2 separate regions of the Homo sapiens genome follow, and region 2 is linked to region 1. Evidence: fine-mapped expression QTL. A gene starts in region 1. The other region holds a variant in brackets. All regions are shown on one strand. Distances are from middle to middle.

Evidence for each region. PIP is the estimated chance that this variant, and not a neighbour inherited with it, causes the effect.
Region 2: its variant is the best candidate, but not a certain one, in a credible set for the expression of NACA in whole blood (TOPMed, PIP 0.59).

The regions. Positions count from the first base shown.
Region 1 is chr12:56,722,619-56,727,994 of GRCh38, forward strand. NACA (nascent polypeptide associated complex subunit alpha) reads right to left here and starts at 2,681. Exons shown (of 9, transcript NM_001365896.1): 1 at 2,645-2,681; 2 at 1,834-1,905. The coding sequence starts at 1,903. RefSeq lists enhancers at 1,308-1,427, 2,487-2,536, 2,627-2,756.
Region 2 is chr12:56,886,384-56,891,759 of GRCh38, forward strand. No RefSeq gene overlaps it. Among named protein-coding and RNA genes, the nearest start is that of SDR9C7, 45 kb to the right of the region's middle. The variant C/T (reference allele first, on the strand shown) is at 2,925.

The DNA.
Region 1 (5,376 bases):
TGGAGGTTGCAGTGAGCCAAGATCGCGCTACTGCATGCACTCCAGCCTGGGTGACAGGGTGAGACTCCGTCTCAAAACAAAACAAACCAAAGAAGACAATTGGAGTGGCGAGAATACACTGGATCCCCACTCCTTAACTTGGAATTTAAGTGTTTCATTATGTCAAAATACACCAATGTTTGGCATGACAGTAAGACAGTATCTCTGGCATTCAGGAGGTAACACAGAATTGGATCAACAAATGCTCAATGCTTAGAAGGGAATGTTAAGGGGGGCGGGGGGGAAGCCCGTGGTACCAAAATTCAAATTCAAAATTCACTCAACCAGTAATTCTGAAGTTCTTATGGCATCCTACCATGGAAAAGACAAGGTGGCTCAACTAGTTTTTCCTGGAGAGTGGGTAGGCCAAAGTCTAACGATTACAGGAAAACGCTACCAAACATAATGAATCAGAATTAAAAACATGGAATATGTTTTCTTCTGACTGGACCTCAAATGGAATAAGCACTCAAATACTTGCTTTGACACCATCAACAATTCCTTGAGCTTCCTTCTTCATTCTAATAGACTATCATTACAGATAAAACCTTGTGTATTTATCATTGGTACTTCCTTAATATAAGCCTACTATGCAACTCAGACTATTCAGGAATACGTTTAATAGCATTAAGGACTGTTTCAGAAGTAAATGCATTAGTTTTGAAGCTTGAATCAGATTATTCTAAATTCATCTGAATTTCAAATCTTCGTATTTGTAAAATTAAGTTGTTCAATGACACAATCTCTAAAATCTCGTTTTGTACTGAAATTACAGAATCTTTAGAGAACAGTACTTTATTTTTTCCCTTCCTTAAGCCCCTTGTACTTCAAGAATTTCATATTGTTTATACTCCAGCTTAGAGCCCCCTATTGTCCTTCCTAGCAGCTGTATTAATCCCTTCAGCTGTTAAAATCAAACAGGTGGGAAGAAACTTTATGCTTTCAACTATAAGCAACTCTACTGTAACTCCAAAAAGGGACAGGAATTGCCCTTAAATAACAAATGAAATTTAAAAAAAACCAAAAAGGTGAGAATGAAAATTACAGCCTGAAGATTTCCTTCATTTAACGCTGCACAACTGACTCAGAAAGGCTATCATTTTAAGAACTTTTCATTACCTCCTCCTAAGTTTTCTACAGAGATATGTTTTAACCAGAATTTAAAATTAGCCTTCACAGTCGTTAATTTCGACGCTGAGGATAAAAGGATTTATTTCAATCCTGGGTTTCACACAATGATGCAGGAACTATTCCAGCACACTAGAAGTATCTCAGCACCACCAACCCATAAACAAGTTATCCGACCTAGGACGACTCTGGGGCCCAGTAGGACACATTTACCACCAGCACACATCTCATCCAGACATGTGATAAAGGCACAATGCCAAGCTCTGCTAACTAAAACCTTGATGCAACTTGCTGGCTGGAGTTTCACAAATGCTCCGGGCTCCTTGGCCTGTGTCATCTAGTTCCAATAGGTAAGAATCACTGAGCCCATTCCCTGCTGAGTTTTCCTATGTGAGGTGGGGGTTCCACAGGAGAGCTTCTTTTGAGGCGACAGGCATAACATAGAAAGCAAGCTAGGGTACTTTTAACGTCCACGAATCTTAAAAATATTATTTTTACTCCAAATCCCTAAAGAAGTATCTCCAGGATAGTAATTTTACGGTCTATCCTCCTTGGTAAAGCTGCAACCCCATCCTCCTAAAAAGTGTATTTCCCCTTGGTCATTTTGCCCACCAAATGGCTTTAGGGTTAATTTTAATTAATGGCAAGGAGGGTAGGGAAACCTACCTGTCTCAGCCTGGGGCTGCGGCAACTCCTGCTCTGTAGCAGGGACGGTTTCTGTGGCTTCGCCGGGCATTTCTGAAGGAAGGGAATAAAAAGGAGGCCTAAATTGATTGGGATACATTCACTTGCCCAACCCGGAGATAAGTATTCTTAAAAACTCCGAGGAGGGCTGTTAGAAAAAAATCGTGAGGGTGTTTGGTGACAACCTTCCCCAAAGCACCTGGGAATAAGAGGTAAATATGATGTGACCCTCACGCCTCTATCAAGGCCAGCAATTCCCACTGCATTCTCAACCCGAGGGAGAGGATCCCGGGCTGGCTCTCGATCATGGGAGACTTCAGACGCTACTGTGAACCCCCTCCACTCCTAATACTCACACTGGCTGGGCTGGGGCCTCCTGGACTACGTTTGCCGACTTTGGGGTACCAGGAGGGGAAAGACGGTGTTTTAAGTCCAACACTTGCTTGTCACAGGGAGAACGGTGTTACAGGTTCTAAGGCTGTGACCCCTTACCCTTTTCTGGATCCTGTGAAGCAGTTCCCAAAACAAGACGCACTCCTCTTCCGCCCTCAACACTGCAACTGCTCCCATCTCTGCAGGCTCGGATTCTGGGCCCGCCCCGCAGCCCTTCTACCCTGCTTTTGCCAGGACACCAACCGCAGACCCCATTTTGTCCGGAGGCCCAGGGGCGAGTAGGAACCCTGTGGCCCAGTAAAGCCTCCAACTCTCCTTAACTCTCAGTCCCCGGGGCGGCTTAGCCCGAAAGAAAGGCGGATGGCTGCGGATAGACAGTAGCGGCACAGAAAGTACTTACTGTGCAGGGAACGCGGAACCAAGATGGCGGCAGAAAGACCGAGCGAGAGCGTGACCCACGCCTGTTGCAGAAGGAAGCCTGGAGCGGAGGGGGTGGGACTAGGATCCGATTCCGGGTCAAGAGCTGCCGGCAGCCACTTCCTTTGACGAGTGACTGTCAGGCCGTTCCCACGGCGGGGGTGGTGACAAGGACTAAAGGGTAAGAATTTAGAACGGGACGCGCAGGCCTAGCAGGAGCTCTCTGCGCGGACCCACGCAGTCCTCAGAACTAAGCAGACTCCGCCCTCCGGTCCGCGAAGTGGCGACTGCGGTATTAAGTCGACCTCGCGATTTCTCAAATAGTGCAGGAAGAAGACATTAAATAGCGAATGCTAGAGACTGCATTCACAACATTGGAGGGTGGAAGTGACTTAGGCTAACCAGTTATTTTTGGAACACACGATGTGAAAACATTTAAAAGCTGCTGGACCCTCTCCCCCCCCATCAACAACAACAAAAAAACCCATTTTAAAACTTGAGAGATGTGATGGGTCACATATAACTTCAGTTCAGATTATAAATTTAATTCGATTTTTCTTGTTCTGTTCAATGACTAGAGAGACTCAAACGATGTCACCAGATGACAGCAACTCATGCGTGTTAAACTCTTCGTAAAACAATGTTAGCTGTACCCCCGCCCCCCCCCCAAAAAAAACACTTCTTGTAACCAAATTCTGTAATTATGTTCCAACCTTGTATGGATAACGTAATCCAGCTAAAAACTCCTCTGTCTCCCTAAATAAATGAAATCGTAACTTCTCTACTTCTGAAGGCTGACTCCATTCTTTGGAGGTTTTCTGGTTGGTCCATCCTCACACTGCCCTTGAATAAACTCTTTAAATAGATTCCGGCCCTTTTGATTGTTTTAGGTTCACGACAATTTAGCCGATGTTGAAATTATAAAGCTGCAGATTCTCCTTCCCAGAAAAAAAGAACATAGGCACATATACAATTCCTTTGCTTGCTATTTTGGGCACTTCTTGGATTTTTTTTTTTTTTTTTTTGAGTCGCTCTGTCGGCCAGGCTAGAGTGCAGTGGCACGATCTCGGCTCACTGCAATCTCCGCCTCCAGGGCTCAAGCAGTTGTCCCGCCTCAGCCTCCCGAGTAGCTGGGATTACAGGTGTGTGCCACCACCCCCGGCTAATTTTTTATTTTTAGTAGAGACGGGTTTCACCATGTTGGCCAGGCTGGTCTTGAACTCCTGACCTCAGGTAATCCGCCTGCCTCGGCCTCCCAAACTACTGGGATTACAGGCGTGAGCCACCATGCCCAGCCTGTTTGTTTTGTTTTTGGGACAGTCTCACTTTTATTGCCCAGGCTGGGGTGCAAAGGCACGATCTCGGCTCACTGCAACCTCCCCTTCCCGGGTCAAGCGATTCTCCTGCCTCAGCCTCCCGGGTAGCTGGGATTACAGGCATGCGCCACCACGCCAGTCTATTTTTTGTATTTTTAGTAGAGACGGGCTTTCTCCATGTTGGCCAGGCTGGTCTCCTCCTGACTTCAGGTGATCCGCCTGCCTCGGCCTCCCAAAGTGCTGGGATTACAGGCGTGAACTACCGCCCCTGGCACTTCTTGGATATTCTAAGCTTATTTATTCTAGGTGTCTGGGACCCCACCTTAAACCATGCTTTGTACAACTGTATTTTTGAAAAGTAGAATGTAAAATCAGTGTTGTGTTAATGAAAAGCCTCCCATATCTTCCCACAGCCCTACAAAAGAACTCAACAAATATTTGCTGTACCTGAATTAGCTAAACCAGTCAACATTTATTTATTTTTTGAGGCGGAGTCTCGCTCTGTCGCCCAGGCTGGAGTGCAGTGGCGCGATCTCGGCTTACTGCAACCTCGGCCTCCCGGGTTCAAGCGATTCTCGTCTCAGCCTCCAGAGTAGCTGGGATTATAGGTACCCGCCTCCCCGCCCGGACTCCTGACCGTAGGTTATCCGCCTGCCTCAGCCTCCCAAAGTGCTGGGATTACAGGTGTGAGCCACTATGCCTGGCCTGATTTAATAGCTTTAAGACGACTGTGGCCACCTTTTTTTTTTTTTTTTTTTTGAGACGGAGTCTCGCTGTCACCCAGGCTGGAGTGCAGTGGCGCGATCTCAGCTTACTGCAACCTCCACCTCCCGGATTCTGGCAATTCTCCTGCCACAAAACTTCTCCTGTTTCACCGTGTTGCCCAGGCTGGTCTCGAACTCCTGAGCTCAGGCAATCCACCCGCTTCGGCCTCCCATAGTGCTAGGATTACAGGTGTGAGCCACCATACCTGGTGTGGCCGCCTTTTAAGGGAAGCAGTGAAAATTTAAAATGCTTTGAAAGCTACTTTAACATTTCTGAAATCCTTAGCGTAGTGAAATGAGGATTAGGATTGGTGAATTAAAATTAAGTGAGATAGTGGGGTTTACCAGGAATGGGAAATTCTGAAATCCTCCTCAAATAGGAGAGGCAATATTGTGGAGTCATTAAAGACAGACTCTGAAATAAGACTCCTTTGTCTAAATCTATTAGGTCAGTTTAGGCAATTAACCTATATATATATTCATGTCAGTTTCCTGATCTGTAAAATGGGAAAAATAGTAGCTGCTTGATAGGATTGTTTGGAAGATTAAATTAGTCTGTGTGTATATATACACACACACACTCACACTCTAATTGGAAGGAAAAAGAAACAGTCTATCTCATAAAATTATCCCAT
Region 2 (5,376 bases), 160 kb after region 1:
TGCAAGCCATTAAGCCTTGGCAGCTCCTATGTGGTGTTAAGCCTGCAGGTGTGCAGAGGGCAAAAGTTGAGGCTTGGGATCCTCTGTCTAGATTTCAGAGGATGTATGGAAACACCTGGATGATCAGGCAGAAGTCTGATGCAGGGGTGGAGCCCTCATGGAGAACTTTTACTAGGGCAGTGCAGAAGGGAAATATGGGGTTGGAACTCTCACACAGAGTCCCCACTGGGGCACTGCGTAGTGGAGCTGTGAGAAGACGGTCACCATCCTCCAGACCCTAGAATGATAGATACACTGACAACTTGTACTGTGCACCTGGAAAAGCTGTAGGCACTCAACACCAGCCCATGAAATCAGTTGAGGGAGATGTACCCTGTAGAGCCACAGAGGTGGCACTGCCCAAGGCCTTGGGAGCCCACCCTTTGCATCAATGTAGCCTACATGTGAGACATGGAGTCAAAGGAGATTATTTTGGAGCTTTAACATTTAATGACTGCCCTTCTGGGTTTTGGACTTGCATGGGGCCTGTAGTCCCTTTGTTTTGGCTGATTTTTCCCTTTTGGAATGAGTGTACTTACCCAATGCCTGTAGCCCCATTATATCTTGGAAGTGACTAACTTGTTTTTTATTTTACAGGGTCATAGGTGGAAGGGACTTGCCTGGTCTCATATGAGACTTTTGGTTGTGAACTTTTGAGTTAATGCTGAAACGAGTTAAGACTTTGGTGGGCTGTTGAGAAGAGATGATTGCATTTTGCAATGTGAGAAAGACACGAGATTTGGGAGTGGCCAAGGGCCGAATGATATGGTTTGTATCTGTGTCCCTGCCCAAATCTCATGTCCAATTGTAATACATAATATTGGTGGAGGGGCCTGGTGGGAGGTGATTGGATAATGGGAACAGATTTCACCCTTGCTGTTCTCATGATAGTGAGTGAGTTCTCATGAGATCTGTTTAAAAGTGTGTAGCACCTCCCCCTTCATCCTCTTCCTCCTTCTCTGGCCATGTAAGATGTGCCTGTTTCCCCTTCACCTTCTGCTGTGATTGTAAGTTTTCTGAGACCTCCCTGGACCATGCTTCTTGTACAGTCTGCAGAACTCTGAGTCAATTAAACCTCTTTTCTTTATAAATAACCCAGTCTCAGGTAGTTCTTTATAGCAACATGAGAATGGACTAATACAGACTGGATGTGCGAATTAGGGGCACCCACTATAAGGCGGGGGTAGTGGGTTGTGTGAGGCATCCCCATGCAGCATAGGGGCATTTAAAAGGGCTTCTAATAAATGTTCCCCATCATTGTGAGAAAATTCTTGCTATATGTCTACAGCTATAAATATTCTTATCCCAATCAAAATCTCAGGTTTATATCCAAGTTCAGCCACTTTAAAAGGCAATGTCAAATTATTTGGAATGAAATAATTTTCTCTTTATTGGGTAAATGTCTGAGGAGATTTATAATAGAGTATAGAAATGGTAATGTATAGAGACAGTCAAGTAAACCAAACCCTGAATTATTATTTTGAATTAAATTTGGAAATGATTTATACAGTATTTTAAGTATTTAAAAATAAAAGAGAATGTGGCATATTATGAACAATTTCACATAATAGATTATCAAACACATTTGCTTTCTAATTCCAATTTTTAAATGTATAATGAGTATTCAATTAGATTTGTGATTTTAAGATAAAAGAAAATTGTGCTATATTATAAATCATATTAGAAAGTTTAAGATAACATGGCTTTGCCATATTTATATGTTGTATTACTTGATTTATAAGGCTTATTTAGGGTTTATCAGTCATACAATTGATAATTGTATTTATTTATTTTCTTTTGTTTACAATTCTATTAAAGACATACTTTAAAAGAAAATTAAATATGTTAAATTTATGAACACAGTTTATGTTTTTAAAGTGAGTTTAATTAACACAATGAAATATTAATTTAAGTTCCCCTTAAGAAATTGATAACATTGGGGTGGAGCCCACCACAGCTCAACGAGACCTCCCTGCCTCTGTAGACTCCACCTCTGGGGGTAGGGCATAGCTGAACAAAAGGCAGCAGAAACTTCTGCAGACTTAAACTTCCCTGTCTGACAGCACTGAAGAGAGAGCAGTGGTTCACCCAGCACAGTGTTTGAGCTCTGAGAACAGACAGACTGCCTCCTCAAGTGGGTCCCTGACCCCCGTGTAGCCTAACTGGGAGACACCTCCCAGTAGGGGCCGACTGACACCTCATACAAGCAGGTGCCTCTCTGAGACAAAGCTTCCAGAGGAAGGATTAGACAGCAATATTTGCTGTTCTGCAATATTTGCCATTCTTCAGCCTCTGCTGGTGATACACAGGCAAACAGGGTCCGGAGTGGACCTCCGAAAAACTCCAAAAGACCTGCAGCTGACGGACCTTTTAGAAGGGAAACTAACAAACAGAAAGGAATAGTACCAACATCAACAAAAAGGACATCCGCACCAAAAACCCATCTGTAGGTCACCAACATCAAAGACCAAAGGTAGATAAAACCATGAAGATGGGGAGAAACCAGAGCAGAAAAGCTGAAAATTCTAAAAGCCAGAGGGACTCTTCTCCTTCAAAGTACCACAGCTCCTCGCCAGCAATGGAACAAGGCTGGATGGAGAATGACTTTGATGAGTTGACAGAAGTAGGCTTCTGAAGGTCGGTAATAACAAACTTCTCCGAGCTAAAGGAGGATGTTCAAATCCATCACAAGGAAGCTAAAAACTGAAAAAAGATTAGACAAATGACTAACTAGAATAAACAGTGTAGAGAAGACCTTAAATGACCTGATGAAGCTGAAAACCATGGCACAAGAACTATGTGATGCATGCACAAGCTTTAGTAGCCGATTCAATCAAGTGGAAGAAAGCGTATCAGTGATTGAAGATCAAATGAATGAAATGAAG[C/T]GAGAAGAGAAGCTTAGAGAAAAAAGAATAAGAAGAAATGAACAAAGCCTCCAAGAAATATGGGACTATGTGAAAGGACCAAATCTACATTTGATTGGTGTACCTGAAAGTGACAGGAAGAAGGGAACCAAGCTGGAAAACACTCTTCAGGATATTATCCAGGAGAACTTCCCCAACCTAGCAAGGCAGGCCAACATTCAAATTCAGGAAATACAGAGAACACCACAAAGATACTCCTTGAGAAGAGCAACCCCAAGACACATAATTGTAAGATTCACCAAGGTTGAAATGAAGGAAAAAACGTTAAGGGCAGCCAGAGAGAAAGGTTGGGTTACCCACAAAGGGAAGCCCATCAGACTAACAGCAGATCTCTCCACAGAAACTCTACAAGCCAGAAGAGAGCGGGGACCAATATTCAACATTCTTAAAGAAAAGAATTTTCAACCCAGAATTTCATATCCAGCCAAACTAAGCTTCATAAGTGAAGGAGAAATAAAATCCTTTACAGACAAGCAAATGCTGAGAGATTTTGTCACCACCAGGCCTGCCTTACAAGAGCTCCTGAAGGAAGCACTAAACATGGAAAGGAACAACTGGTACCAGCCACTGCAAAAACATGCCAAATTGTAAAGGCCATCAATGCTAGGAAGAAACTGCATCAACTAATGGGCATAATAACCAGCTAACATCATAATGACATGATCAAATTCACACATAACAATATTAACCTTAAATGTAAATGGGCTAAAAGCCCCAATTAAAAGACACAGACAGGAGATTGGATTAAAAAATCAAGACTCATCAGTTTGCTGTATTCAGGAGATCCATCTCATGTGCAGAGACACACATGGGCTCAAAATAGAGGGATGGAGGAAGATCTACCAAGCAAACGAAAAGCAAAAAAAAAAAAAAAAAAACCAAAAAAAAAACAGGGGTTGCAATCCTAGTCTCTGATAAAACAGACTTTAAACCAACAAAGATCAAAAGAGACAAAGAAGGCCCTTACATAATGGTAAAGGGATCAATTCAACAAGAAGAGCTAACTATCCTAAATATATATGCACCCAATACAGGAGCACCCAGATTCATAAAGCAAGTCCTTAGAGACCTAAAAAGAGACTTAGACTCCAACACAATAATAACGGGAGACTTTAACACCCCACTGTCAAGATTAGACAGATCAACGAGACAGAAGGTTAACAAGGATATCCATGACTTGAACTCAGCTCTGCACCAAGCTGACCTAATAGACGTCTACAGAACTCTCCACCCCAAATCAACAGAATATACATTCCTCTCAGCACCACATCACACGTATTCCAAAATTGACAACATAGTCGGAAGCAAAGCACTCCTCGGCAAATGTAAAAGAACAGAAATCACAACAAACTGTCCCTCAGACCACAGTGCAATCAAATTAGAACTCAGGATTAAGAAACTTACTCAAAACCACTCAACTACATGGAAACTGAACAACCTGCTCCTGAATGACTACTGGCTAAAAAACGAAATGAAGGCAGAAATAAAGATGGTCTTTGAAACTGATGAGAACAAAAACACAATGTACCAGAATCTTTGGGACACATTTAAAGCAGTATGTAGAGGGAAATTTATAGCACAAAATGCCCACAAGAGAAAGCAGGAAAGATCTAAAATCAACATCCTAACATCACAATCAAAAGAACTAGACAAGCAAGAGCAAACAAATGGAAAAGCTTGCAGAAGGCAGGAAATAACTAAGAGCAGAGCAGAACTGAAGGAGATAGAGACACAAAAACCCTTCAAAAAATCAATGAATCTAGGAGCTGGTTTTTTGAAAAGATCAACAAAATTGATAGACCGCTAGCAAGACTAATAAAGAAGAAAAGAGAGAAGAATCAAATAGACACAATAAAAATGAGAAAGGGGATATCAGCACTGATCCCACAGAAACACAAACTACCATCAGAGAATACTATAAACACCTCTACACAAATAAACTACAAAATCTAGAAGAAACGGATACATTCCAGGACACACATACCCTCCCAGACTAAACCAGGAAGAACTTGAATCCCTGAATAGACCAATAACAGACTCTGAAATTGAGGCAATAATTAACAGCCTATCAACCAAAAAAAAGTCCAGGACCAGATGGATTCACAGCCGAATTCTACCAGAGGAAGAAAGAGGAACTGGTACCATTCCTTATAAACCTATTCCAATCAATAGAAAAAGAGGTAATTCTCCCTAACTCATTTTATGAGGCCAGCATCATCCTGATACCAAAGCCTGGCAGAGACACAACAAAAAAAGAGAATTTTAGACCAATATCCCTGATGAACATTGATGTGAAAATCCTCAATAAAATACTGGCAAACCAAATCTAGCAGCACATCAAAAAGCTTATCCAACAAGACCAATTTGGCTTTATCCCTGAGATGCAAGTCTGGTTCAACATATGCAAATCAAC